2 separate regions of the Homo sapiens genome follow, and region 2 is linked to region 1. The links come from fine-mapping of genetic effects on gene expression. A gene starts in region 1. The other region holds a variant in brackets. All regions are shown on one strand. Distances are from middle to middle.

Region 1 (15,474 bases):
CAGGAGCGATGTATCTTCACCACGTGGAGGAAGGTGTGTGCAGCGCGAAAGAATGACACCTGAAGGGAAGGAGAGGGGAAAATACACACAGGGAGTCCTTGTGAAGTCCAGATGCCTGGTCCCAGTTTTCCTGAAGTCGAACTGTATCCCTGCCCTTCTGAGTTTTGGTTGTTAACCCTTCCTTTGGGATACCTGGGCATCCTTAGCACCTTACCAATAATATGGCTACATAAGCTAATGTGAGTTGGGGTGTTTTCAGGTACAAAACACTTATTGACCCTGAGATTTCTGAGCTAAATGCTAATTTCACATATTTCCATTCATTTCTATTTAATAAACAAGTATTTGCAGCTGTGAATTTTTCTCTGCAGCTAGCTTTTGATACAGACAGTCATCATTATACTATTTTCCAAATTGTCAGTTGCTTTTTCATTTTAATTAAATTTGTCCCATCTCATTTCAGGGATGGGAGGCTGAACTTACCTCACCCCTTTGATAATAATATCAACAAATATTCTATACCAACCACATACCAGATAATGTTCTAAGCTTTCTACAAACATTAACTCATTGAATTCTCACAAGAACCCTGTAAGATCGTACTATTAATATCGCTAGATCGTGGATGAGGAAATGGAGGCACAGGGCGTCCAACTCACACTGAGCAGGTAAGTAGAGTTGCTGAGATTCGAACAGGGGACTGTCCGGCTTCCAAGTCCATGCTCCGAGAGCAGTTTAGAATCTAAAGTGCAATGCTGTCACAGCCCTGTGCGGTAGAAAAGGCCAGCCCACATGCTGCTAGCCCCTGAGACAGCCAGAGAACACAGCAAAAGCACCAGCACAAGCATGTGCTGTTCTTCAACACACAAAGAAGCTCAGGCCTCAGGACACAGGGTTCTGTTTGCAAGAGAACAACTCCCAAGAGACAAGACACAGCCAGAACGCAAGATTATGCCTGTAACATCGTGGTCCCATCATTGTTTCCAAACCCACTCAGTCATTGCCCCATGCCTTCCTCCTGGGGCCGGGTGCTTTGGGTCCATGCTCGGGGAGGAGTAGGGAGATGGTAAGTGGGGCAGAGTTATCCAACAGGCCAAGAGTAAATCAACCTCAAATCAACATATTTTACATTTGTCCTTCATTGTTGTTGATCTCATCTGCCAATAACTAGAAAATCTTGGTTAAAGTCTCTACTGGTAAGGTGATTTTTGTCAGCTTCTCCTTAAATTCCTGGTAGTTTTTGTTGTGTACAGTTTAGTACTATGTTACTCGGTCTTGATTCCTAAGAGTTCATGGATGGTACATTCTCACCATGGATATGTTTCCATCTGTTATATTTTTCACTTTAGATTGTCTCTTTTTATCCCTGTAGCAGGGTGAGAAATTTACTCATACCATACTCATTTGAACTAAATGAATTTTAACCTTGAGAGCTCATAGTATTTCTTTGTTTTACACCATCTCTTAGAAAGCTCAGCATCACCCAGGTGAATGCACAGTCATTCTTAGGTCCTTTCCCTTTCACTTCCAGCTCCCCTTCAAGGTGGTGTCTAGGTGGTCAAGGAGGGAGTGGTGGGAGAAAAGGGAGCCTTAGAGCCTTGCCCGCCTCCATTCTGAGGGGCTGGGATGGTCATTTGGCTGGTGAAAATTAAGGTATCTTTAGGAAGACTCACACTGAGAGCTGATATCTGTGGCCTTGGTTTGGGGCCTTGTTCATTCAATCTTGCCTACTATAGCCTTTTAGTCCTCACCCAGATATCTGTTAATTTAGACCCTCAATGCCTTCATGTCTCCTCACCTGTGGGACACCTAGCATACTTCACAGAGCCACGAGGAGCCAGGAGTGCCATATAAAGCCCAGCTTTGCAGCTACATCCTTCGATCCCTGCAGAACCACCCTGTGTGTTATCTTCCCCAAGACTCCCACATGGGTGGTGGCCAGAAACCCCTCTGCTTTTGGCTATTCCATCAGCTGCCTTGATATACCTTCCACGGAAACTAGAGCACCTGGGTCTGACTGCCTGTTTCCCCTCCCACCCTCCTTCCTTCCTTCTCTCCACTCTCCATGAAGGTAAAGCACGACAAGCTTCCCCTTCCTATCTCTGTGGGACAGAGACTTGCCATACTTTTCTTCTTCCCTCTGCAATACTATCACAATACATTTTAAAGTCTCTAAAGTGTATACAGCACACACATTACTTCCTTCAATGTCATCTTCACCAAAACTCAGCACAGTAGGTAACATCATCCCCATTTTCCAGGTGAGGAAAGTGAGACTTAGAGAAGTTTCATGAAGTGACAGAGCAAAAACCTACACCACACTTTCGCTTCAAAGGCTGGTGCTTATGCCTTTTTGTATAAAACTAACATCTCATCCACATTTGATCTGTTATAAGTCCATGATTCTTGGTGTAAAGGAGAGACTTGATAGAGAAGAAGGCAGGGGTGGGGGCTGGGGGTAGTGCCTGGACAGACAATCCGTGGGCAGTTGTCACCTGTGTAGAAATAAAGATAAGGAGGTAGCAGTGGGGATAACACAGACCCATGAGCCTTTATCTCCAGCAAAGAGAGAGAGAGAAGTTAGAAAGAATGGAGGAGGAAGGAAGGGTTGAGAGGAGACATATAAATGGAGAGAAAGCCTGTGGTTATATCCATGGCAGCCCTACCATGCCTCTCCTTCTGCAGAAGCCCATGCGTTCATTCCTGGTTTCTTCATATCTTAAAGTGAAGTTAAAAGAACATAAAATTAGCCAGGCATGGTGGCTCACGCCTGTAATCCCAGCATTTTGGGAGGCCGAGGTGGGCGGATCACGAGGTCAGAAGATCAAGACCATCCTGGCCAACATGGTGAAATCCCATCTCTACTAAAAATACAAAAATTAGCTGGGAGTGTTTGGTGGGGGGTGCACCTGTAATCCCAGCTACTTGGGAGGCTGAGGCAGGAGAATTGGTTGAACCAGGGAGTTGGAGGTTGCAGTGAGCTGAGATCACTCCATTGCACTCTAGCCTGGTGACAAAGCGAGACTCCATCTAAAAAAAAAAAAACAAAACAAAAAACAAAAACAAATAAACAAAAAACCGGGTGCAGTGGCTCACGCCTGTAATCCCAGCACTTTGGGAGGCCAAGGCAGATGGATCACCTGAGGTCAGGAGTTTGAGACCAGCCTGACCAACATGGAGAAACCCCGTCTCTACTAAAAATACAAAATTAGCTGGATATGGTGGTGCATGTCTGTAATCCAGCTACTCAGGAGGCTGAGGAAGGAGAATTGCTTGAACCTGGGAGGCAGAGGTTGTGGGGAGCCAGGATTGCACCATTGCACTCCAGCCTGGGCAACAAGAGTGAAACTCCGTCTCAAAAAAAAAAAAAAGATAAAATTGCCTTGGATCATTATATATTATACAATGGAAATCCTTTGTCTCGAGTATTAGGACTTAAAGGGATATGAAGCAGAACTCAGGTGGCTGCTTTCTCCCATCAAGTTAAAAAAAAAAAAAAAGAAGAAAGAAAGAAAGGCTGTGGACCCTGGTACACATTAGCACAGCAGCTGGTCAACTCTGGTCATTTCTAGGAGCGCTGTGCTCAGAATCGTGTGCTATGGGCCCGGTGGATCTGCATTAATCTTTTCAAAAATGCAAATCTCAGCTTCAAATTCAACAGCCTCCTCTGGAATTTCAAAGAGTTCTGGGTTGTTTAAAGGTTGAGTGGAATTCCTGAGCCTGTGTTAACTGGTCACAGTCTACTGACTCTCATAATTAGCGCAAGACCACTGTGTTGTGTAAATGCCACTCAGTATTCAACAATGACTAACCACTCCATTTCAGATTGTTTACTTAAGTGGGGGGCTTTCATCCACAATCAGTGTTTCTGAGCATTTAACCTATTTAATACTGAGAGACGAGAGAGAAGGCGAGTTGCCCATTTCTCTATTTCTTCCCCTACACCCTAACCGCTCCCCAACTCCAGCCACCAAATCCCAGTATTGTGCGTAGCCCAGTTCTAAGTCTTGTCTGGCTATTAAGCTGCATGACGTTGGCTACCCTGAGCCTCAGTTTCCTTATCTGCAAACTCCAGGGGCAGAATTGGATGATGTCGAAGGTCCTTTCTACCTCTGAAATACACTGACTGGGGGAGAAGATGAAATGTCTCCTTTGTGAAAATCTAAACGTATTTATTACGTACCAAAAACCACAGCACGGCCGACTCCAGACTTGGGAAGTGTCTAGCAGTTGTCCACGTGTCGCCTGTCTTTTATTGCAATGGACCAGTGCAAGAAGTAGGAAGCTTGAGCAAGATCCAGTTTTAAAGATATCAGCCGAGTAACATTTAGAAAAATGGGCAGAACACAACAGCAGAGTAAGAAAGTAAAACTTGTCAACAAATTTGTATGGTTAAATGTGTGTGTGCGTAAGAGTCATGTTCACTCATATTTTATTTTTTAGGGATGATATTAGAACTGTATTTGGAGACAAAATGAGCCATGGGTCCTGGCTGAAATGCTAAACTGATACATAAACACCAAGGAGAGGAACTTGCTTCCTTCTAAGGGGTGTGGAAAGTTGGAGAATAAAAGAGCCTCGTGGGATAGGGGGCAGTGATGCCAAGTGCTATTTATGGGCTATTTATGGGCCACCAGAGATTGAACTGCCTGTGGGGAGAAGGATCCAGAAGGGACTCTGGGTAGCAGAAATATCTGAGATGGAGTTTTACCTTTTTTGATGTGGAGTGAGTGAAGAGAGCCTCCTCTTTTACTTTCCTTAAGAAATCTTCAGTCCAGTATACGTTATACATTAATTAAGTTGGTATTTTGAGTGTGTTGCTTTTCGGGGTATGTAGAAGAGAGGCTGAATTCTCATTTGGCTTGATGTTGGAATCAGGAACAGTCAACTTTGATACGGGGCACAAGAGCGGGCCATAGCTGATACCCTGGTTTCTCTGTCTGGGCCTGGCCTATCTTGTGGCTGGGTGCACACCTGCTTTATTTTTTACTTGAAATGTCTTCTTTTTCCACCTGTCCTACTCATGTCTTCAAAGCCTAATTTTCATTTTCCCTGATCACTCCACCTCCTCTCTGCCCTCATTCATTCATTAGTGACTACAGGCTGGAGATGCCAATTTCAGGGCTTCTGCCCTAAGCCCCCAAGGGAGCTGTGTGCTTCTTGAGTGCAGATACTTTGTTTCACTCTTCCCCACTCTACCCCCCAAACCAGAAGAACAGAGCTCCTGTTTCTTCCTTTCCATGGTAGGCCCAACACCTGGCTTTGTGCCTGGCACACAGCAGACATTCAACATTTGTAGAACTGATAGACTATTAGATTAGTAGTGACAAATACTCCCCGAAGAAAATGCTTATTTGAACATACATCCCAAATTTTCTGCCCTCCAGAAAATGCTTCCTTGGAAGGATTTAAGACAGTTTGATGTCTCTGCAAACATTATCTGCGTTTAGGGACCAACTTGCCCTTCTCAGCGTTCACCTGGGATGTCTTTATTCTTCCATTTAACCTTTACAGGGGACCCCGATGGTGACGTGTCCTTCCTAGGGGCCATTACCTCTCTCAGGGATCCTAGTGTCTGGTAGAAAACAACAGCTCCAAGTTCTCTGCATCCAAACTTCGCCAGGATACGCAGATAAACCTATTTAAAAAAAAAAATCTTTTTAAATTCTCAACTTGGTGGTGTAAATAAGGCCCTTGCAGCGCCCTCAAGTAATAATCAACGGCAGTCATTATGGAAGGAGGGTAGAGATGAGCGCCTTACTCAAAGCCAAGACATTCACAATTTCTCGGGCCGGCTGCCTGTGCCTGGGCGTGTGCACTGTGCACTCCGAAGCTGTGTGCGGCGGTGGCCTTGGAGGTGCGCGTGGCCTTAGGAATTCCCGCGGTCGGGCACCCTCCGCTTAACACCGGGCCGTGTCCCCGGCCTGGGAGCCGAGCAGCGCGGCTCTGGCATGCTAAGTGGGCAGCACTGGGGCGCCTTTGTTCCTCGCGGCCGTCTCCCAGGACCGGCTTCCCTCTGAATCTAAATGGGCTTCTCCCTCACCCGCTCCGCCCTGGCCTCCTGGCCTGGGCACGGCGCCCCTGGGTAAAGCGCGCCCGGACACCTGGGGCGTGGGCGTGCGGGGGCAGCCCGGGCTAGGCGAGCGCGGGAGAGGCGCCTGCGGTCCCAGCCCGGCCAGGCCCGAGCACCTGCGCGAGCCCGAGGGAGCGCCCGGCCCTCTGCCCCCGCCAGTCGCCGGCGCCCAACTTGGGGGTCCCGCCGTCCGCAGCCCCAAGTCTCGCGGTGCTACCGCTCTGACCGGGGAGCCGCGGGCCGGGCGCCCCCCGCCGCGCGACAAAGGCTGAACCGGGAGGAGGAGGCCGAGGAGGGGGAGGAGGAGGAGAGAAAGGCGGGGACGGCGAGCGGCCGCGGCGGCGGGGAGAGCGGAGGGAGCGCCGCCCGCCCGCGCCGTCCTTTGTGTGGCGGCGGCGGCGCCTGGGCCTGACCGGGTCCCCGGGGCTGAGCGCCGGGCTCCGCGCCGCCCCTCCCGCGCCCCTGCCAAGCGGGCGCCTATCCTCTCCGAGCAAGATGGCAACCCCGGCGGCGGTCAACCCTCCGGGTGAGTAGCGGCCTGGGCCCCGCCGCCCGCCGCAGCCCGCAGGCCTTGCCCGGGGCCGGAGCGGACCAGGCGCGCCGGGCGCCCCCGGGGGCGCGGAGCCGCAGCTCGGCGCGGTGGGTGGTGGAGCGGCTGTCACTACGCGGCAGCCGCAGCATCAGCACCAGAGCGGCATCTGCATCCCAATCGCTGCCCATCCGGTCCCGGGCAGGCGCCGGTCCGGACCCGCGGGCGGCCGGACGCTGGCCTCGCATCCTCGGGAACCCGAAGGGCAGGCCCGGGAGCCCCCGAAGTTCTGAAAATAACCGCCTTTGCCTTCCCCATCCCACGCATTTTTCTCTTCCGGTCCCGGCTTTTGTGGCATCACGGCGTCAGCCAGTCCTGGCTGGTGGAGGGCTCCGCGCTGACGGAGGGAAAAGTTTGGAGCTGGGATTCAACAGGGTACAACTCCCGGGACTCTCCCCTGCCCGCCCCGCCCACTAAGCGCTGGTCCTTTGCGCCCTTTGCGACTGGCTGCTGTGTGTCCTAACCCTCCGGGGGCACAAAACACCCAGCCTGTGGTCACCAGCGTGGAGCAGCCCTGGTCCTGCCCAGGTGACATCCTCTGCTTTCTGGTCTGACCTGTCCCCAGGGTGCAGTCTGTGACAACTGAGCTCATTAGGAAATATTTCAAAAATGGAAGAGTTCTTGATCAAGTGGCAACATTGACTTGTTTTGGTATTGTAGTAGGGAAGTTCCGTTTTCACTGGGAAAGTTCCCTACCTGATGAGCAGGGTGTGGGAGAAGAGAAACGTGAACATCTAAGCTAGTACAAACTTTTGGGTGTTGTGCAGAGGCTGCTGTGGGCACGGCAGGTTGCTGGGTCCCTGTGGAAGATGCAGGGAGAGTCACAGAGGGCGGCCCCCAGGAAATTCCCAGCAGAGGGAGGTCATGTGTTGGAGATAGGGAGGGTCGGGGGAGGAACAGCAATGCCTAGCAAAGAAAAGTGTCTCTCATCATAGAATTAGGAATGAAAGATCCCTTTCATCTAAGGCGGCCAGGGAAGGCTTCTGGAGATTGGACATTTCGGCTGAACCTTGAAAACGGGAATGTTTGAATATACAGAGCCAGTAGCAGAGGGGCATTGCAGGCGTAAGTAACAGTGGACTTGCTCTAAGCAAGTGCAGAGGTCAGTGAGTAGTTGGTGCACTGGGGATATAAGAGGCAGCAGTGGGATTTAACACTGAGTTGTTTGGATGTGACCAGGCTTTAAAGGACAGACTGAGGAGTATGGACTTTCTCTCTCCACATTAAGGGAGAGTCCTCTGCACACTTCCTAAGAACCAGAAAAATAAAATAAAATAGAAAAGAGAGAGAGAGACAGAGAGAGAGAGAGAGAGACCTCAATGGTATTGAACAAGGAAATCGCATGATCACTTTTTCTGGAAGACTGATTTGTCAGCTATGTCTAGGAAACATTCTAAGGAGGGAACAAGACTTGAGACAGGGAGGCCAGCATGAAATGAGGCAGGTGCTGGGGAGGCCAGAATTGGTGGCCATGGCTGGACCAGAGAGGAAGGAATGCACCACTGGGCGGGTAGAAGAGTTCCAGATTTGGCACTGATTAGATTTGGAGTAAGAGTAAAGGAGGAGGCCAAGGAGAGACAAAGGGGAGGTGTCCATGGAGACACCAAGGTGAAGAGCCTGTGTAATTCCAAGGAAGGCAGTTCCATCAGCAGAAATAGGGACTCTTGGAAGAACAGACAAGGAGGCCTCTGTCCAGAACACTGAGGAGGAACGTGGCTGGTCTGAAAACAAATCTGTGCCAGTTTGCCTGTGACTGAAGCTGCAATTTCAACCCATTCAACTACTTCAAAATCAATGGAAAATTGATAGATGTAAATGTTATGAAATTAGAAAAAGCAAAAGATGTTAAATGAAAACATTTTAGTCCAATATACACTGGGAACAGGAATAAAATCCCTGGTGATTTACATAATTTCTATGCCAGGACATCATTGTTTAAAACTTTTTTGTCCATTACATTGCTCCATGAGCTACATGGACTAAAGATCTAAAGATGGAGTAACTGCCCCTGGCCCCGTGGTGTGAAGCACAGGAAAGCCTGTGCCTGTGCCTTGGACTGCGGGAGACTTGAATGGTACAAGCATAGGGTATTGTTGGCGTTGCTAGTCAACACCTGGCCAGCTTGACAGATGCTTTTCTCTGTTGACAGCTATACCAGAGATCTTCAGCATGGTGATAATTTCTCAAGGGAAAATTCCTTGAGGTGATCACCTTTCCTTTTACCATCATTTCTTTTACTGGTCCCCTGAGGATGATCCGTGGGGATGTGTTATTATTGCCCCATGTGAATCTCCATCTTTTTCTTTGGGAGAAAGGGTTTAATTTTAAGGGACATGGCTCAGGGTTTGAGCCAAAGAGAGAGAGTTCAGATTCTATGGGCAATTTACAACAAAAAGAGCCATGGTACCCAAGCTTGTCACCCAGAGCCTACCTCACATGGGCTTGTGAGACTTCTTTGAATTCCTTTTTCTTCCTGCCTCCTTTCCCCAGATATGGTTGCTTTGCAAAGAATAAGAGCTTGGTAAACAGAACCAAATGGATGGGGAAGCACCAGGATTTATTTCTGCTGCTAGTTCGTGTCCAGGGTACAAAGGCCACAGCCAGTCACCTCCCCACGCCCCCACTTGTTCCTTTTTTCCCAGCTGACCACTTCACAACAGCAGAACCATTTACAATGACACTCTTCTGTGATGTGTAGTGGGGATTCTCTAGGGTCTTGTTGGTGACCGGTGATGTTGGGGTCTTCACGCTCATGTTACTCATGTTACTCTGTGGATATAATACAGGTCCAAATTTGGAATCTGCTCCTTCAAGGTCCCCTGTTGGGGTTTTAGGTTAGGATTCTACCAGCTACTCTGGGAGAGGAGAAGAAAGGATTGGGCTCCCAGATATTCTCCTCATGACTTCTGCTATGACAGTCCTGGTTATATTCCTCATATCCTGTGGCCCCTGGTGCCTCCTCCTTCTGGGTCATTTACAGTCCTTACGTTGGTCACTGAAACTGTTGTATTGGCTGATTTTCTCTTTTCTCTCTGGCCAGGAATGACATATATCCTTTAGACTAGAGAGTGAAGTCATAGAATCTTCCGTTTTGTGTGTCTGTGTGTGTGTGTGTGTGTGTTGTTTTGCTGCCTTTTTGAATGACATTTAAGTGTTTCTGATGTATAGGAAATAGTGAAGATTTGAATTAGTTATATACATAAAAGGGTATTTGCAGCTGAAATGGCACAATTAAGAAGGAGATTGTTTCCCCAATGTCATTGTTCCATCTTAATCTTTTGTAATTTAAGCATGAGGGAATCAGCTACAAATTCAGACCAGTAATCATTAGGAATTAAGCATTATGTGGACATTCTCTGAGATGAGTATTTGCAGAGTAATTAATAAGGCTCATATGTTTTAAAGGATTTCAAAATTATGTTTTAAGAGATTTGGAATTCCACTTTTTTTTCTGAAATCAATTATTGGATTTTTTCCCCACTTCCAGGTTTCTGGTCTTTGGCATTTCAATTTGGAATTAATTGTATAGTGCAGGAAGATTCTCTGGACAAATTGCCTTAGATGGAGGGACATTTGAATCAGCTTGTTGAACTGATTGGATATCTTTGATATGCCAAGCTGTCTGCAGGGAATAGAGCAATGTGGAGATGAGGGAGAATATTTCTTGACCTCAGGGGGTTCTAAGTCTACTAGGGGAGGCATAGGTAGACTAACTTAATAACACCAGGTGGAATGAAATGAACGTTGACTAGGCATGTTCATATCATCATGGGGAGCCAGAGGAAGTCTTATGGGAGGTAACTTCTGAACGTGGGCCTTTTGAAGACAGAGATTTTGACTTATAGAGAATTTAGGAATGGTCATTTTGCGCTGATGGCTGGCGTGTGAGGCAGACAAGATTTGTGAAAATATGGAATACTGTCAAGTGGTTGCTTCCTCAGTGCTCTTGGGGACTCAGCAGGACACCCAAGAATGTGGGTAGGTTTTGAGCCTTTGAGACGTGTGCGCTATGCTTGCAAGCTGTCCTGCCTTGAGTAGGGCTGGAACAGCCAAACCAGCTGGACATACAGTTGAGCCCAATTTCTCTATATCCTGTCCTTCATTGAATCTACGAGCCCATCAGTTGCAGGACACATCATTCTTTTATGGACTTATAAGAAAAAAATGAGCTGATGGCATTTTGGCTTTCATCAAAAGAAAGAAAAAAAGGAAGAAGTGATACCTGAAAAAAGAGATTTATTTATTCCTTCAGTATATATTTATTTTAATTAATTAATGAATTTTAAAAAGTTAATTTTTAAAGGCTCCTTTTTTAGGGCAGTTTTAGGTTCACAGCAAAATTGAAAGGAAGGCACAGAGATTCCTCATATATCCCCTGCCCCCACACATGCACAACCTCCCCCATGATCAACATTCCCCAGCAGAGTAGTACATGTGTTACAATTGATGAACCTACAATGACACATCATTATCACCCAAAGTCCATAGTTCACATTAGGATTCACTCTTGATGGTTGGTAGACGTTCTATGGGTTGGACAAATGTATATGACTTATATCTACCGTTATAATATCATGCAGAGTATTTTCACTGCCCTAAAAATTCTCCATGCTCCACCTATTCATTCCTCCCACTTCCGAATTCTTGGCATCCACTGATGTTTTTACTGTCTCCATAGTTTTGCCTTTTCCAGAAAGTCATGTAATTGGATTCATGCATTACGTAGCCTTTTCAAACTGGCATTTTTCACTTAATAATATGCATTTACATTTTCTCTGTATCTTTCAGTGGCTTGATAGCTCATTTGTTTTGGTGCCGAAGAATATTCCATTGTCTGGATGTACCACAGTTTATTTATTCATTCACCTACTGAAGGACATCTGGGTTGCTTCTAAGTTTTGGCAATTATGACGAATGAAGCTGCTAGGGGCTAATACTTACTGAGTAACTACTATGTGCCGGGGACTGATCTTGGTTCTGGGATCACTGTGGTGAGCAAATTAGGTATAACTCCTACCATCATGCTGCTTGCTAGCAAGACAAATAGTCACAAAAGAGTAACACAATTGGGTTAGTTATGAAAAGTGTAAATGTTATGAAGAAATGATCCCCTGAGATAAAATAACCAAGGGACCTAAATTAGAGGATTAGCAAAGGCCATTTGAAGTCAGTGAAAGCCTCTCTGAGGAGTTGACCCTTGAGTCAAGCTCCAAGGAATGATGAGAAATGTGAGGAAGAGCATTCCAGGCACAAGGAAGAGCCCCTTCAAAGGCCCTGAGTTGGGAAGAGCTGGAGAACAGGGAGCAAGGGTGAAAGCGGTGTGAGAAGCTGGAGCTGCGGTAGAGGCCAGCTCACGGGGGACCACTTTTGGGTTAGGGACTGAGACTTCATTTTTAAAAAGCGCTGGAAATCTACTGAAGGGGGTTTGAGCAAGGGGCATGATCTGACCTGCACTTTTAAATGCTGCTTCTGGCTGCTGTGTGGAGAGCCAATTGGACTGAAGCGGGAGGAAAAGTAAGACTCCAGTTAGATGGTGCTAACTTAGGTCAGGGGCTGTCAGTAGAGAATGAGAGAGAGGGAGGTGGATTTGAGTTATACTGGGGGCAGGGATGCCATGCTGAACAACTCCAGGGGCACCAGTTACTTCCCTGTCCATCCCTTGGGCACGACATGTCCTGCTTGGGGCAGAATCATCATGACTTCATTGTAAGGAGTTAGGGGAAGAGTCAAGGACGATTCCCAGCTTTCTGTCCAACACCTGGGTGGTTGGAGGTGACAGGAAGTTAGTGAGAGGCAGGGGGCCTGTGGGGTGTGCTCCAGGCTTCAGTATTGGACAGCTGAGTTGAGCTGCTTGTGCGACAAGCAAGTGGAACTGTCATGGAGGCAGTGGGACACATGCTCCCAGAGATCTGGGCTGGAGAAGGAAACAAAGAGGGATGTTGGCCAGCCATTTACCAGGTTCTCTAAATGCTTTCCTTGGGGTAAGTTAGTTCACAGAACATAGAGCTTTTGGTCCAAGTACCATAGTTCCCAAACAATGCTTGCATTTACTGCTTTATTGTCTGTCTTTATTGAGATTCACTAAGACACAAGGTCATAGGGAGATTATTTCTGCATCTTTTCCAGATCCAGCAATCCATTCATTTTTATCTATCTATCTATCTATCTATCTATCTATCTATCTATCTATCTATCTATCTATCATCTATCTACCTACCTATCATCTGTCTACCATCTCTCTCTCTCTCTCTCTTTCTCTTTCCCTCCTTTTGTGGGGCAGGTCAGGCTGTTGGACTAGCTCACCACACGAAACTCTTTGTTCAATGAAGAAAAGTTATTTCTCAGTTTTAGCCAAGCTCCTTTCCAATTGAGGGCTCTTGTTTATGTTGTGTCCCTCTTCTTGGAATGATTAATTGCTCACTGTCCCTCCTTCCCTACCCTTACCCCCTCCTCACTCCTAACCATTTTCCTGTCCAATTCCTACTTTTCTTCTGGTCTCAGCTTGAATTCTTACTCCATTAGGGAAATCTATCCTGATCCCTTTATCCAGGTAAAATGTACCTATCATGCATTCTTCCAGGGCCCCATAAAGCTGTACTTTGCTTCTGGAGCACTTCGCCTCATGTAAATTGTGCAGTTATTTGATTGATACCTGACTGGAAGCCCTGTGAGGGCAGGGAATGTATCCAACAGTATGGCAGCCCTGGCACCTACCATATTGCTTCCCATACAATAGATACCCAGTAGGGTTTTGTTAATGAATAAATGGAGGGATGCCAGGGAACTGTCTTTTATTTTGTATGTGGCTGCCTTTCAATGACTCCCTTGAAGGAAAGAAAGCATATATCCTATATTTGTGGGTCTCTGTAACAAAATAGTCCAGAGCTGTCTAATTGAGATTCTGACTTTTATTTGTGGAAACTGATTTTGATCTGAAAATCCTACCAAGATAATCCCTATGCAAACTAGTTCCTCTAGACTTTCTAATAAGGAGCCTTGGACACACAAAGCTCATCATTCTTCCCAGAAGAAGATTAGGTCAGAATTGAACAGTCGAATGTATTTATATATTTTTATTTTATACTGCTGTCCACAAAGGTTACACCAGAGGCTTAGAGAGGCTCAGAGACTTACCTCGAGTCCTCAGCAGGTGGGTGGGTGAGGAGGTCCTACACCTACCTGATACCTTGGACACACAAAGCTCATCATTCTTCCCAGAAGAAGGGTAGGTGATAGCTTGGAGACTGGCTGGTGGTAGTGGTAGGTTCCGTGTTACAGTCCCACAGGGTCTTCTCAGAAGGGAAGTGGGATCCTCCCATTTACTGCCTTCTGTGTTGTGTGTGAAACTATTGACATGGCTTGCTTAATTACCAGCAGTTACTGATAAGACAGACTCCAGGCTGGCTTTGAGATTCAGCCACCCCAACAGCATTCAGGAAGGCAGCAACAAGGTCAAAAGATGCATTCATTGCCCTCTGATTGAATAGTGCAGGCTTTAGAGTTGGAAGCTGAGGCTCTTTGCAGATAAGCAGAGACTCTGTGGCTGCCAAGTCTATAACAATTTGACCATTTTTTTCAGGGAAATCTACAAAAATGCCAAAATGTTTACAAATAGGTACTTCCTGCTTTTGTACATTGTATGAAAACATGGGACATCTCTTACTGTTTTGGTTTCATTGTGAGAACATACAAAGCAGAGGTTGGAGCTCTTCTCCTAGCCCCTGCTGAGGAGTTGGTTGCTTTCTTCACCACAACCACTTTTCCCCCACAATAAAGATCTGTGTTGATTGTAAAAAATTTGGAAAATGCACAAAAACACTAAGATAATTCTGCCACCCATAACTAACATTTTTGCGTATATCCTTACAGACTTTTTTCTAAATATTGTGTGTGTGTGTATATATATATATATAACAAAATAGAATTATTTCGAGCATATTGCTTTGTCATCCCTTTTTTCCCTTCATTAATGGTATATCCTATCAAGGATACTGATTTGAGAAGCTGCATATATTCTGTTTATGGCTGTGTCATAATTCATTAACTCACATTCTTATATCTGGGCATATAATATTTGGTGTGCTTTTCTGTTTGCCAGAATTGTACACACCATTGTATTGAACATCCCCGTATATGAATGAATATATGAATACATGATTTTTTCCTTATTGTCAATTCTTTGAAGTAGAATTGAACAGTCAAATGGATTTATATACTTTTATACTGCTGTCCACAAAGGTTAGAACAGAGGCTCAGAGAGAGGCTCAGAGATTTATCTGGAGTCCCCAGCAGGTAGGTGGATGAGTAGGTCTTACACCCAGACGCTGTGCCCCCTATCCTTGGCAGGTTCCGGCAACCCAGGCCAGGCCCTGTTGCCTGTAAGTCTGGAACTCAGATCATCTACTGATGTCTATAAAGGGCAACTGTGTACCTTTCCTGGCCTCCTTTCAGTGATTTAATAATTTCAGTGGCTTTTTAATTAACTGCTGTTAGGGTAATTGGTCCAGGTCAAAACAGGCAGGAAGTTGCCTTACTCAACAGGCAGAGAGCCTCTGATGGCCTCAGTGGGCCGCTGCAGGGGCCCCATGACTGGGCTCTCCATGCCAACCTGGGTTCTCATCTGAGGCCCCATTGTTCTCCCTCCACCCCCTCCCTTACCAATTCACCTCTTCCATATGGCCTTTCTCAAACGCTGGTGCCACTAACTTACCCAGAAACCTTTGCTCACCGTCTATTGTCCACACATCCTCCTAGGATTGACCTACACACTTCCAACCAGACCACCTGGCTGACAGGGTGGTCCCAGGGCTTA
Region 2 (15,474 bases), 31 kb before region 1:
CTTGTTTGGCAAGATCAGGGAATGTCATAGTAAATGGGGATATAGCTCAAGGGAAAGTGTCTTTGTGACTTTCTGGGAACAGAGGGTTCTCCCCCTCCCCCCACAGTGAGCATCACTCTCTGCCCTTGGTCTGGAGAGCACATGGCATTTCAAGGCCAACAGCGCCACCTAGTTGAATAGGGATCCTCTCCATGAGGCACATTGTCGCTCCTTTATAGAAACACTCTAGCTTCGTAATTCTCCCTTTTTGTGCCCCTCTGCTAAAGACCAGGCCTTATGCTGCTTCTATGAACAGGAAAATTCTGCCTTCAACAACTAGGAGTAAAATGTCCTCCAACACCAAATTTTAGTTTCAATACTGTCTCATCAGCAGGAAAATGGCCATTTGGTTCCTATGTTCTTTTAAGGCACCTATTCTGCCTCCAATTAGAATGGTAATTAGTAAGGGGATTTTAGGTTCAGACATTAACTTGAACCATTATCTAAGGGTAAATGCTTTAGCATGGGCCATAATAGCATGATATAGAGCTCAAACCAGCACACTTCCTGCATTAAAGAGGGAATTGCAACAGTTGCTCAAATGCAACTGTGATGTAGTCTCACCTGAGATCCACTTTTCAGGGATCCAGGCAGATCACAGAAGTCTAGGAAGTCAAAGGGAAATCACAGGCAGAGGAGTAGGGTTGCATGGGTAAGTGTGACAAATCCCAGTAGCTTAGTTCCTCTGTTTCCATGGCTGGGGGTCATGCCTGCAACCATGGATGGCATTTTCAACAAGGTGCTGGGACTCAGGAACCACAGAAGGAAAACAGCAGAGGGGCACCCCTACTGTCTTCCTCTCCACCCTAGGTCACACGGAAAGGAAGGAGACTAAAGGGAAGCCTTTTTCTTGCTTCTCTTTCTAGATGGGTACCATCTTCAGCCTGCACTCCCCTGGAGTGCATGCTGAAGCAGTGGGACTCCTTTCACCCTGAGACTTTAAAAAAAAGCAGCTTATTTTCTTTTGCACAAGGGCATGGCCTTCTTACCAGACCTTATGCAAGCATTACAAAACCCACTCAGTTCTTTCAGCAATCATATCAGGCAGGCCCAAAGGGAATAATTCCCCAAAAGTAGAGAAGCAACTTCCAGGGGAACCATCTGAGGATCCCCCTTATTTGGGGCCCCTTCAAGGTCCTTTCTCATTGCAGGACCTTAGGCAAACAAAAAAGACTTAGGCCAACTTTCTGATGACCCTGATAGCTATAGAGAAGCTTTGCAAAATTTTACTCAGGTGTTTGATCTCTCATGAAGGGATGTTATGCTGCTACTAAGTCAAACCCTAACTGCAGCTGAAAAACAGGCAGCTCTGCAGGCAGCAGAGAATTTCAGAGATGAGCAATATGTCTCCTATCATAGGCCAAAAAGGAAAAGAGAAAATAAGAAAGGCAAAGAAACAGGGGAAGCTCCATTTCCAATAGGAAGAGAGGCATTACCTCTTGACAACCCTAACTGGAACCCCCAGACTTTTCCATGGTGTTTTTCCTTCTTTCATGGTTTGAAATGGCTCCTGTATCTTCTTTTATAATTTTCTTCCAACCTGGGAACAGTTAATTTTCCAAACCTTAAAATGCTTGGCTTAGAGTTAAGCTAGGGGGAAGGGAACCCAGAAGGCTGACACGCTGGCAAAAGTGTAAAAATTTCTTACCAGTTGGGCTTTTGGCTTCCCTCTCCCTTTGCAAACTGGTAAAAGGAATAATAAGGATTGTTGTTCATATTATCTGTAAAGTTTTAATTAATGAAAAGGGATTTGTGAGGTTTGTTTTAAGCTGTAGCCAATCTGATGTGCTTTTTGTGTCTTTCTGTATGGTTCTGTCAAGACAAAGGGTACCTTAGGTAAACATGCAGACCCAGGACCCTATAAACCTACTGTTCAAGCCATCCCAACAAAATGGTCAGTAACAAACTTGGCTGCAGGCCTCCATCTTCTCTCATGTTCTTGGGAACATGACTTGTAACTGCATGGCAATACTTTGTTCCAGTCTCTGCCATTTTACGGTGGTGGCTGTCTTCTTTTACTAAGTCAGTTCTTGGGTGGGGGCCACAAAATCAGATAAGCCAGTTTATTGATCTGGGTGGTGCCGGTTGATCCATGAAGGGCAGGATTTACAAAATATCTTAAGCACTGATCTTGAGAGCACTTTAGGAAAGGTCAAAATCTTGTAGCCTCCAGCTTTGTGATTCCTAAGCCATGGTATCTAATCTTGTGGTTAGTTTCTTGGTCTTGTCTCCTGGCAAGTTGGAAGTAAATTTTAGAAAAGGGCTGTTATCATCTTTGTTTTAGGCTACAAACTGTAACCAGGCTCTTCCCAGAGTTGGTTTGCCCTACACCCAGGGATGGGCAAGGACCGCTTGGGGGCTGGAAACAAAATGGAGTTGTTTGGGTTGGATCTCTTTCACTTTCTCAGTCACAATTTTGCAATGACAGTTTTAAAAGCTGCTTATCACCCTTTTAAAAATACCTTGTACACTCGTGGCTAAGTCATAACTTAGTTAAGACTTGTTGGTTTCACCTGTGAGATTACTTTCTGTAAAGTTCAAAAGCCAAAAATCTTAACTGCTTGGCATGGCTAAAATCCAGTAAAAAGGGAAGTAAAAGAATTTTCTTAAAGACCACTCAGCTTAATTAAAAGTGGATATCCAAATCATAGGTATACTGAAAAGGTCTTTATGTTTTTTTCTCTACTTGGATTTTGTTTTTCTGAAAAAAGGATTTTTTTCTTTTCAGTCCACTGAATTATTTTTTCTCCATTTTTTTTTTTTTTTGAGACAGAGTCTAGCTCTGTCACCCAGGCTGGAGTGCAGTGGCGTGATCTGGGCTTACTGAAACCTCTGCCTCCCAGGTTCAAGCAATTCTCCTGCCTCAGCCTCCTGAGTAGCTGGGATTGCAGGCATGTGCCACTATGCTCAGCTAATTATTTTGTATTTTTAGTAGAGACGGGGTTTCACCATATTGGCCAGGATGGTCTTGATCTCCTGACCTCATGATCCACCCACCTTGGCCTCCCAAAGTGCTGGAATTACAGGCGTGAGCCACCATGCCCGGCCTGTCTTGTCACTCTTAAAGCACACATGAGAGGCCCTAAGGTAACTTCTGGTAGCCTGTGATTCCTTGGGAAAAGCAGAGGAGGTGCCACAGACCCCGTTTTGGGAAAAAAACCCTCTGTTTTCCTCATGAAACCCGAGGAATCAAAAGCAAACAGTTTCCTCTCAAAATCAAAAAGGTTGTGTTCTGTTTTGCATTTTATTATGTGACAGTTTTGAGTTTTGGAGGTATCAAAATACTTAACATTATGAAAGAGCTTTGGCGTGTAGTAACTAGGTAGGAAATATACTTTAAGGGATGGCTAATAGTAGTTATGGAGGGATACTTAACTCTTTGCACATTTGAATCAGAGAAACATGCTCTTGGCCACCTGGAAGATATGGAAACATCCCCACCCCCCATTTAAGAGATGAGACTCCCATGGGGGATGGGCTAATTGCAGAATGGGCTGATTTGGCTTTGGGTTGCCTTACAATGAAACGCATGGTAGAAGCACTGACCTGCCTTTGGGACTCCTATAGTATCTCTCTCCTTTTGGGGATCCAGAATCCAGTAAAAAATGGCATCTTTAATTTTGGGATCTGTCTTTGCCTTCAGCTGTGTCTGCTTATTAGGCCCTAAAAATGGGTGCTATCGTGACCCTGTTCCTCCAAGGGTTCCATCCTGAAGGCAGTGATCTAATTAAGAAACTGGCAAATGAAAAACCTTACAAGTGCTGAATCTTCTGTCTATATTGCTATATATATATGTTGTGTGTAATGCCTATAAAAAGAGCTCTAATTGATCGGCTTAATGAAAAATAAGCACTTAAATATTTTTTTAGTTCACATGACTTTAATCTTTAAGAAATAAAAATAGTCTTAAGGATTATTGGTAAAATGCAAACGTTGTCAAAATGCAAATAGTGGCCTAAATCATACAAGTCAGATACTATTTTTCTCTCTGGTGCCTAGGCTCTATTAGTCCCTGGGACAGTGAGCTCTCCACTTGTGGGGGATGGGGATGAGGGGAAAGAATGGTGGTGAAAGTTATTACTAATTTAAATTGCGATGGCTTCTTTATCTCTAAGGCAAAAGGGGCAACTGAAGGGGAGTTGAGCCAAAAGGATGTGCCAGGGCTGAGCTCAGCATATCATAGAAAGGAGAACAGTATGGAAAGATCAGCAAATGTATACTATCTCATGCAGAGGCTGAGCTGAGGGCACCTCTGGTTCCTCTGGACTTTCTGGGCCTGGGGACCTCCATGGCAATGAAAGTGCTTGGAATGTCTGCTAAATACATCTGATTACAAAATAATTTTATGTTCTAAGGAATATACACCCTCTGGGTCAATCTACGATGGGAATGGTTAAAACATAGCATCTGTTTTTATTTTATTTTATTTTATTTATGTATTTATTTATTTTCGTTTCCAGCTATTGACATTGAAATATGCACGAGTGGATTGTCTGTCTTTGTGGTTCTAAGATCTTAAGACCAACAAGAGAACCCAGATATTCCTAGAGGTTGCAAGAGAGAGATGATGCTTGTTGGACTCTTGGAAGTGATGGAGATGCCCCAGATTTCAAAAGCAGGGATGGGATTACTACGCTCACTTTAAAGGATGGTTGAGAAAGGGTACCACAGCTGCATCATCAAATGCGAGGCTATAGGAATCTTCTGAGACTCTGGGCATGAATCCCTGAAATGGCAGACAGAAGCCCTTTGGGACAAAGGGGAGGTCGGAGTAGGCTAAGGAGCTGGTAAGTTCATCTACCTGGCACCACATTTCTATTTCTCACACTGGTAGTGAATGTCACCTGCCTGGAAGAGGGGAAGAGGTGTCCAACTGAGAGAGGACTCTGCATGTTTCTGAGGCTCAGAAGGGGTGAGTCCAGGCTGAGCTGGGTTGCAGAGAAAGGGCCTGGCATTCCTGGGAGTGAGCAGAGGCTGCACTGGGAACTGCAACTCTGGGAGAAACTGACTGAATTCTGTGTTCTGAAAATTAGCATTGATTGAGATATGTTTCATGCTCTCTTTTGAAAGCAAGTCCTGGACGCAGTAGATGTGTTTCCTAAAAGGGGCTATTTTGGAATCTGGATGTGGTAGCACATGTGTTATAGAAACTACTCAGTGACATGCACCAACAAAGTATATTTTGCGGCCTCTCTTGTTCATGAAATTGTACATCAAACATGCTTAATAAATGTTTGAGAAGTACTTAGAAATAATTTTTGTAATTTTAGGTCTGGAGACTATAATATCACTTTCTTTTTCTTTCTTTTTTTTTTTTTTTTGAGACGGAGTTTCGCTGTTGTTGCCCAGGCTGGAGTGCAATGGCGCGATCTCGGCCCACTGCAAGCTCCGCCTCCCGGGTTCAAGCCATTCTCCTGCCTCAGCCTCCCAAGTAGCTGGGATTACAGGCAACTGCCACCACGCCCGGCTAATTTTGTATTTTTAGCAGAGATGGGGGTTTCTCCATGTTGGTCAGGGTGGTCTCGAACTCCCAACCTCAGGTGATCCGCCTGCCTCGTCCTCCCAAAATGCTGGGATTACAGGCATGAGCCACCGCGCCCGGCCCAATATCACTTTCTTAATCTGCCTTATTTAAAGGATATAAGGTTCCTTTATATGTCAATTAAAACAAACCTGTTGGTCATCTTCTATTTATCCATATCCTTTATAACTTTCATCTAGGAAATATGTCTGATTCTGAAATATAAGTCTATTGAAAATCTCAAAATTATACTTATGTCACTGTTCATGGATTTATCTGTACTGGGTGTTAATTTATCCATGCAGTACTTTATATTAAAATCATATATGTATGTATTATATAAATAATATATAATATTTTGAATATTTTTAAACTTTATATAAATGGTGTAATTTTTTATATATTTCTGCAATTTCTTTTTTAAAAAACAAACATCCCACCAGAACCCATATTTAATAACATGCAAATAAAATAAGAATATTTTCAGAATGATTTAAAGCAAGCAGGAAAGGATCTGACATACTTAAATTGAAAGGATAAACATTTAAAAAATGCAAATAATTTTATCAAGCAGAAATGGTTCCTTTTCAAAGAAAAATAGGCAGGGATATTAAAATATTAAACTGATATAGTTTCCAAAATAATCCAATAAAACAAAAATTCCCCTATGCATGCTTAAGCATAGAACATTCTTTGAAAGCTACACAGCAAAAATTCATGAGAATAATATTTTATTCATAGTTTTCCTTTTCAACTATTCTTTGAATAGCTCTTGTACACATACAACAGAACTACAAGCTCATAAATAATGAGTTTCAGTTTTTATGTATAGATTGTAATTATTGAAGCAATTATGAGAGGAAATCTGAGGCCACAATATTAACACCAAATGAGAAACATAGTGGATTGTTCCCCACATTGATATCAGAGAGAGCAATTGAGTTGTGTCTTTATCCAACATAAAAATTACTTGATGCTGAGCAATTATAATGAACAATTTTAGTTTGGAACCTAATTTCTACTGGTATTAAAGATTCAGATATCGTAACAGAAAGAAAATAGTCATCACTAATAGTGTAAGCTGTTTTTTTTGTTTCCCTTTTAGGAACTTTCCACTATTTTTCCCTCAACTTTCTCATGTTCTGACAAAAGATACTTAAATTTGCAATATTTTAAACTTATTTTCAGCATGCACAATCCTGATTTTAGAAGTTTATCCATTTAATGATAATGTGTACAATACTCAATCATTTTTCTATCCTCATCATGCTCCCAAAGGTTATCCAATTAAAAAAAATTCCCCACTATAATAACTGAGAAATTTACATTAGGAAAATAAGCAGTGAGAAAAAAAATTACATATCTGAGAATAAAGATCACAAGATATAAAAGTTTCTCTGAAATTAAAAAAAATATATTTAGGCCACAGATTTAAGGAACCATATGGGAATGACTTGCAATTCATTTTATGTAAACAGAGAAGACAACATTTATTGGCACAATTTAATATGTAGATTAGTTTCTGCATAAATAGTTTAGAGTTGCGTGATTGGTATATCAAAGAGAGATAAATATAATTTTAGTAGATGCCTTGAAGTTTGGAAAGGTCTTCTGTAAGTGGCATATTTGCTTATTTGCTGTTTAATAGCAAATTCAAGGTCTGATGATGTGACATGTGATAACAGCCTTTAGATGCCTCATCCCAGGCAGCCTCCTGTACCCCTCTGGTCTGCCTTCCCCACTGGTCTGTGCTATCAGCTGCATTATTCAGTTGCCCATTAAGTGGGAATCAAATCTGTGTCATTAAGGAGCCCCAGGTCACAATAAGCCTTCATTACTTTGCTTATAGCAGTGTGGCTTTATTTTGAATTGGACCACTGATTAATACTGTCCAGCTCCTGTTATACTGATGAGATCATTATTTAACCTTACACCTTCTGAGGCTATCAGTTACACATCAGAGAAGCCTTGCCTTGCATTCCCCTTGCCAGAAAAATATTTTCTTTGGGAGTTCCAGAAGCCAACTTTGTCCCAGTTCTTACAACAAAATTTCCTCCTCTCTGCCCCACCTGCAAGGCTGGCCTCACGTAAACAGCCAGCCTTGGTCTCGGCCACCAGGGCCTTTGCAGCAAAGACGTGCCCGGGGGAGAAAAATTCAATTTGTACTTTTCACTCAACTTTATATTTGTGACATGCATCCACAGGCATAATTTATTTACTGTCACTGCTATTTATTTATTTATTTTTAATTTTAATTTTTATTTTTGAGACGGAGTCTCGCTCTGTCGCCCAGGCTGGAGTGCAGTGGCCCAATCTCGGCTCACTGCACGCTCCACCTCCTGGGTTCATGCCTTTCTCCTGCCTCAGCCTCCTGAGTAGCTGGTACTACAGGTGCCCGCCACCACGCCCGGCTAATTTTTTGTATTTTTAGTAGAGACGGAGTTTCACCGTGTTAGCCAGGATGGTCTCATCTCCTGACCTCGCAATCCACCTGCCTCGGCCGCCCAAAGTGCTGGGATTACAGGCGTGAGCCACCGCGCCCGGCCCTAAATATTTATTTTTAATAGTTATGTAACAATTTAATTATCCATTTGCCTATTCACAAACAAATATTGGTGAGTTTTCAGTATTACAATGTTGCCAGGAACACTTGTGTACTTGTCTTCTGGTGCACTTGTGTAAAGACTTCTCCAGGGCATATGTCTATGGGCTGAATTGCTGGTCGCAAGTTATGCACACCTACGGCTTTACTGGATATGGCTGGATTGCTCTCAAAATTATTCCCTTCAGGGACTCAAAGTGGCTACAACAGGTCCAGAAGTCATATTCAAACACTGCAACAGCCAAAAGAAAAGAGACAGTTTCTTCTGGTTCTTCTTAAGAATGAGAGAACCTTTCTCAAATAGCTTCCAACAGACTTTGCTTCAAGACTGTTTGCTGGGATGAAGTCTTACACTCATTCTTAAAGCAGGCATTGGCAAATCAAACCCCATAGACCACCAAGTTTTCTCAACATCGGCACTCTTAACGTTTTGGGGCAGGTAAGTCTTTGTTGAAGTGCTTTCCTGTGCATTGTAGGATGTTAAACATCATCCCTGGCTTCTACCCATGAGATGCCAGTAGCACCTCCCCAGATATGACAACTAAAAACGTTGCTAGATATTGCCAATGTCACCTTAGTAGGGGAGGGGAATAGCCTCTCATGAAGAACCACTGGCTTAGTCTGATTATTTGGTAAGGAATAGATGGTGGGAATTCAACCACTGTGACCACTACAGACCCTGTGCTGGGTCAGTGCAGGATGCAAATGAACCTTCCGGAACCCTGTGTTAAAATGCCTCCACATTGAACACCACTGCTTCTGCTAAATACTTCTTCCTAGGAAGTGTTAGATCCGTAGCTGTTTCTGCTTTTAGCCTGGCAGAGGATTAATTCCAGAATCTAGTGAGTGGCAGAAGGTACTCACAGCAATGAAACCACTTCAATTGTGCAGCTGTAGGACAGCAAGCTACTCAAGTCATCACAATATAGGCCTTGATTTCATTTTCAGGTCAAAATGTGATTGAAAATCAGGTCCTTATTTCCCTTTAGGTCCTGGACTCTTTTACATTCTTTTCTTCCAAGTTTCTTTAGAGAGCCTTGAAAATATTGCTGAATGTCAAAACAAGATGTTCCCAGTTCCCC[G/GC]CCCCCCCGCCACCCTCCTAATTTATATATAGCATGGGCTAATTTTCAGTCTTCTGTTTCAGTGACAGTGACATCCTGTTCCTAACAGGTGGCAGAGTTACAGTCAGCTTCTTTGCAGTTATGGAACCATTATTTTAGGGCATATCCAGCCCTCCTAATTTATTTTATTAAATGAGGAGAAGACTCATCCCAGGGGGCTGTCATAGCAGGTAGGTGAACTTTGGCTACCTTGGCTTCTTGTGTCCCCTGGGCTTGCATATACTTGTAAACTCTGGGGAAGACTATTTGCTCCAGATGACACTGAATGGGGAACCCTCACATAGATCATTCCAGCTCTTCTCTCTGAGTGCCCTCCCTGATCATACTGAGGATTCCAAACACTCATATTCAGCACAAGCTGCAGTAGATACTTTTTTAAGAGGCAAAGGACCCACTCTTACATGCACACACAATCCTCCCCTTTTTTCTCCCACTCCTCACACTAGCCCAAGTCAAGATGTTTCTGAGCTCCTGCTGTATTCCCAGCCCTGTGCTCTGGGAGTAAGATTTGGTCTCGGCTCTCAAGGAACTCATGGAGCGGAGGGAGAGACCCCTGATGACAGTGCAAGGCAAGATTCATCAAATACGAAAAGCAGGTGCTATGGGCATCTTGAGGAAGGAGAGCTCCATGCCTGGGGTTCCCGGAACCAATGCTGGGAGTGGTTGAAAGAGAAACGGATTTGGGACTGATGGGTTTAACTCACAGCACTCCCTCCTCCAGCTTTGTGAATATATTAGTCCGTTCTCATACTGCTATAAAGATACTACCTGAGACTGGGTAATTTATAAACAAAAGAGGTGTAATTGGCTCACAGTTCTGCATGGCTAGAGGGCCTCAGGAAACTTACAATCATGGCAGAAGGTGAAGCAAGGCACCTTATTCACAAGGCGACAGGAGAAGGACAGCGCAGGAGAAACTGCCACTTTTAAACCATTAGATCTCACAAGAACTCCCTCACTATCACGAGAACAGTATGGGGGAAAACTGCCCCCATGATCCAATCATCTCCCATCAGGTCCCTCCCAAGACACCTGGGGATTACAATTTGAGATGAGACTGTGGTGGGGACACAGAGCCAAACCGTATAAGTGATCCTGAATGGAGTAGTTGGTGGTCATTTGACATTTTGATCCTTCTTTTTCTCATGTGCAAAGTGGGAACAGTAACACTTATTCATAAGGCTGATGTGTGGATGAAATGAAGTAATGGTTGTTAAAGTTCCCATTATGGTACTAGCTCAATAAAGTGATGTTCTGTTTAAAATATGAAGATGAGGAGTTCCCTACCCCTGGGAAAATTCACGAAGTAGTTTGGCAGTGTGAGTAATGCCCATAATAATTACTAACACTTCTTCAACACTTAATCATGTGCCAGGCACTATACTTACTGGTTCATTCATGCATTCTATAAATATTTACTAAGGACCTACTGCACGTTAGAGACACATCTAGGAGTTGAAGACAGAGCAGAGAACAAGACACTCAAAGCCCCTGTCCTTACCGCCCTTACAGTCTGGTGCTAGAGACAATTTACAAATTGCTGTTTCAGGAGTAATAAGCAAGTATGAGAAAACTAAAGCAGTGTAACATGGCAGAGGGGGTCCAGTGGTACTATTTTAAGGTGAGGTATCCAGGGGGTGAGAGATGTACCAGAAGTGAGATGGGTGAAGTACGCAGATATCAGGAGAATGATATCCAGCTCAGGGAGCACAAGGTTGTGGAGACAGCAAGGTGTCCCCTGAGCTGGAGGCAGTCAGGCCAGCGTGGCTAAGGCAGAAAAAGCAATGGTGAGAGAAGAGGGAGATGAGGCTGGAGAGGCAGCCAGGGGCCAGATAGGTGGGATGTTTTGGCCTTGGTAAGGACAGTGGATTCTACTGTAAATGTGGGAGACCATTAGAAGATTGGAAGTAGAGGCTCATGGGCTGGCTAGTAATTTCAAAGTGTCCCTCTGGCAGCAGTAAAGGGATTAAGGGTGGGCGCAGGGAGAGTGGAAATGTCCAGTGCACAATCCAGGTGACCGGCTACTGGCTTGGACTAGGGTTGTGATAGGAGAGGCGAGAAGAGGTCCAGTCTCCTGTGGGATTGGATGTGGGGTGTGAGCAAAAGAGAGGAGGCAAAGGTTTTGGCCAGAGTAGCTGGGTGAACAACAGTGCCACTAACCAGTAAGAGGAACCATCAGGGAAGAGCAGGTTTGGGAAGTGGAGAATCAAGGTTTCCATACTGCCACAATAAACTTAAGATTCTGTTAGACATAAAGATGTTGTGTAGGTGGTTGGAGATATGAAATGAGTTCAGTTAATATGTGGTCACATATAAACTACTTAGTCCTCTTAAACTAAGGTACGTACTCCTATTATGCTCATTTTATAGATGAGGAAACTGAGGCACAGCTTAAGAAAATTGAAACCCTTTGGTCCTTTCAGGACAAGGAGACATGGTTCATGAATGGAGCAGGTGGAAGAAGATGAAGGTTGTCCCCATCAAGTTACTGGAGACACCAGTTGGAGCAAAGCAGTGACTATTTTAGATGCTGACTCCAAAAAAGTAAGGGCACAGATAGGACTCATATGTTGGAGGTGAGGCCTGAAGGGAGGTGTTAGGGCCATGAGGGTGGACCCCCTCATGAATGGCTCAGTGCCATCCTCATAGCAATAAGTGAGTTTTCACTCTACTAGTGCCCATGAGAGCTGATTGTTAAAAGGGAGCCTGGCATCTCCCCACCTGCCTTCTCTCTCACCTTGTTGTGATTTGCACATACTGGTGCCCCTTCCTCTTCCACCATGAGTGGAAGCAGCCTGAAGCCATCACCAGAAGCAAATGCAGGTGCCTTGCTTCTTGTACAGGCTGCAGAACTGCAAGCCAAAGTAACCTCTTTCTTTATAAATTACCCAGCCTCAAGTATTCCTTTGTAGTAACACAAGTGTTCTAAGAAACTCCCCAACGCACAGCGTTTTTCAGGACTTAACATTGCCACCTAGCCCGCCAACGATCTTTACCACCTCTCCAACGCCTTTCTCCTCTGTGGGTTCTGGGAAGGACCTGTTTACTGGGATGGCAGCCAAGAGGAGAAGGGAGAAGAGCTGTGCGATGGTCTCCATGGCCAAAATCCCCTAGAATGAGAAGCATTTTCTAAGATCCAGAAGCCCATGACAGCACTGTCTACTTTAAGGCAAGCTGTCCCAAGAAAAGCAGGTAAGCTCATTAGTGAGGAGCTGGGTCTTCCTCAATATCTATATTCCTTCCTCAAGGTCTTTATTCCCTGTTTAGGAAGAAATTCAAACCTGCTCAGCCCTGGCATCTCCCACCGGCATCTCCCAGATGCCTGAGCAGGTCTGTGGCACTAAACTCACAGGAGCGAATAGTAGAAGAAATACGTCTTCCATCCTGCCCAAGCTCTGAAACCACCTTTTGTGTTTCCTATAAATGTATTCACTCTTTTCACTGGACAACCATGGAAACCAGTAGCAAAGGCATTTTGTTAAGTTCTAACTCAAAAAGCTTAATCACATTTTGGCAGCTTTTCTCTATGACACAGACGCATAAACTTCATTCTCTCCCCTTTTGCCCCTCAGCTTTGGGTATTAGGCATGTCTTAATAGACCAGCACAGCAGTTTAAAAGGAGAAAGTGTAAGCTTCCTGATACATTGGTTAACTCTGCTTCCATTCCTTTTGCAAACTTCTCAGCATTTTCCGAGAGCAACCATCTTCCATGGATCGATATCTCCCTTTGGATCTGGAATCAGTAAGAGAGAGAACCTGTGAAATGCCATTCCTGAATAAAATATGGAAAGAGTTCATTCTGATTTTACTCATTTTTTACCATGCCAACTTCTCTCACATGTTGGAAGGATGTGTGCCCATGAAGGGGGGCTGATCAGGGGAGGAAAAGCAGGGAAGCCATCAAGACTGTGGAGGAATCAGAGCAGAGCAACGACTGTACAAAGAAGCAGCCAGCAAGCTGAGGCCAAGAAGGTCTGGCCCAGGCCAGACCAAGCAATAAAACCTGAAGGAAGGACTCTCTGTAGGGCAGTGGGACAGGGGGCAGATGTGATGGCGCAGAACAGAATGGCGAAGTTTCTGAGCCAGGCAATTTCAAGAAATCTGTAACAGAGGGACAAAGAATGAAAGGGAGAAGGAGCTATCCAGGAGAACAGGGCTAGTAGGAAGAATGTAAGAAATCTAGCAGGCTGGTGGCCAAGCAGTGGTGTGCTAGAATCTATTCATATTAGTACTGGCTCATGAGAGCCCATTGTTACATTTTCAGGATTTTTGTGAGCCACTTGACATTAGGTTGGTTGCTGGAAATTGGCTATGTCGTATTCATACTACAGAAATTGATAAATGCTACAAATCCGGGTGCCCACCCACCTCTTGAAGCTCTCAATGGCCAGTTGTTAAAATTTACCAGCACACCACTGGCTGCCAAACTCCTAGGCTCCAGTGGCTTAAAATCCCAACGATCTAAGAGATCCAACTTGAGAGGTGAACTGGACAGCCTAGCCCCACCCCTTCTCTCCTCCTTGTGCTCTGAAGGGGCTGTGCCCAAGAGCATCAGAGAGGAAACTGCGATATGCCACCCACAGCCCCTGGGTGGGGACTCCCTGTAAAAGAGTAGTGATCACAGCCTAGACTAGAGTTCTCAAAGTGGGGTCTCCAGACCACCAGCAGCAACATCACCTGGGAACTTGTGAGAAATGCAGATTCTCAGGCTCCTCTCCAGGCCTGCTGAATCAGGAACTCTTGGAGTAAGGCCAAGAAATCTGTGTTTTAACAAGCCCCACAAGCAATACTGATGCTTGCCTGATTTCGAGAATCATCGGGCGAGGTTGTGGTAATGATAGTTGGGTCCAATTTGTGAACTAAGACAAAAATTTAAAAATGTATCACTGTGTCACAGTAAAGAGGATTGGAAAGATGGTGGGAGGTGGGTGCAAGATGGCCCAGCAAATGGTTCAGGATGAAGTCTTGAATTATGCAAAGGATTGGCAGGCTTTATGATCCCAGGTTGGGGAGGAGCTGATTAAGACCTGTGCTGGATAAAAACAGACACACAGACCCAGTGGAATAGAATAGAGAATCCAGGAACAAATTCATACATCTACTGTGAACTCATTTCCAACAACAGTGCCAAGAACATACATTGGGGAAAGGACAGTCTCTTCAACAAATGGTGCTGGGAAAACTGGATATCCATGTGCAGAGGAACTAAACCAAACCCCTACCTCTCACTGTATACAAAAATCAAATCAAAATGGCTTACAGACTTAAATCTAAGATCTCAAACTGTGAAACTACTATAAGAAAACATTGTGAAAACTCTCCAGGACATTGGACTGGGCAAAGATTTCTTGAATAATACCCCACAAGCACAGGCAACCAAAACAAAAATGGACAAATGGGATCACACCAAGTTAAAAAGCTTCTGCACAGCAAAGAAAACAATCAATAAAGTGAAGAGACAACCCACAGAATGAAAGAAAATATTTGCAAACTACCCACCTGGGTATCAATAACAGAATGTATAGGGAGTTCAAAAAACTCTACAGGAAAAAATGTAATAATCCAATTTTAAAATGAGCAAAAGATCTAAAAAGGCATTTTTCAAAAGAAGACATACAAACGGTAGGTATGTATATGGAAAGGTGTTCAACACCATTGATCACCAGAGAAATGCAAATCAAAACTATAATGAGATATTGTCTCACCCCAGTTAAGATGGCTTTTATTCAAAAGACAGGCAACAGCAAATGCTGGTGAGGATGTGGAGAAAAGGGAATCATCATCCACTATTGGTGGAAATGTAAATTAATACAACCATTATGGAGAACAGTTTGAAGCTTCCTCCAAAAATTGAAGATATAGCTACCATATATATGATCTAGCAATCCCACTGCTGGGTGTAAGCCCAAAGGAAAGGAAATCAGTATACTGAAGAGATATCTGCACTCTTATGTTTATTGCAGCACTACTCACAATAGCCAAGATTTGTAAGCAACCTAAGTGTCCATCAATACATTAATGGATAAAGAAAATATGGTACATATACACAATGGAGTACTACTCAGCCATAAAAAAGAACGATATTCTGTCATTTGCAACAACATGGACGGAACTTGAGATCATTATGTCAAGTGAAATAAGCCAGTCACAGAAAGACAAATTTCACATATTCTCACTTATTTATGGGAGC

Direction of the effects. Positions count from the first base shown, and alleles are read on the strand shown. Sizes are in standard deviations (SD) of each study's normalised expression.
For the expression in esophagus muscle of the gene that starts at base 6,435 in region 1, GC is the low allele of the variant in region 2 and G is the other (moderate effect, 0.70 SD a copy in GTEx).

The links.
Region 2: its variant is fine-mapped to the expression of ARNT2 in esophagus muscle (GTEx, PIP 0.95).

The regions. Positions count from the first base shown.
Region 1 is chr15:80,397,948-80,413,421 of GRCh38, forward strand. ARNT2 (aryl hydrocarbon receptor nuclear translocator 2) reads left to right here and starts at 6,435. Exons shown (of 19, transcript NM_014862.4): 1 at 6,435-6,599. The coding sequence starts at 6,569. It overlaps ARNT2-DT (ARNT2 divergent transcript), which reads right to left and starts at 6,249. Exons shown (of 6, transcript NR_184070.1): 1 at 6,044-6,249; 2 at 5,555-5,638; 3 at 1-59. RefSeq lists an enhancer at 5,866-6,366.
Region 2 is chr15:80,367,137-80,382,610 of GRCh38, forward strand. All of the region lies in intron 3 of ARNT2-DT (ARNT2 divergent transcript), which reads right to left. Among named protein-coding and RNA genes, the nearest start is that of ARNT2-DT, 29 kb to the right of the region's middle. The variant G/GC (reference allele first, on the strand shown) is at 9,245.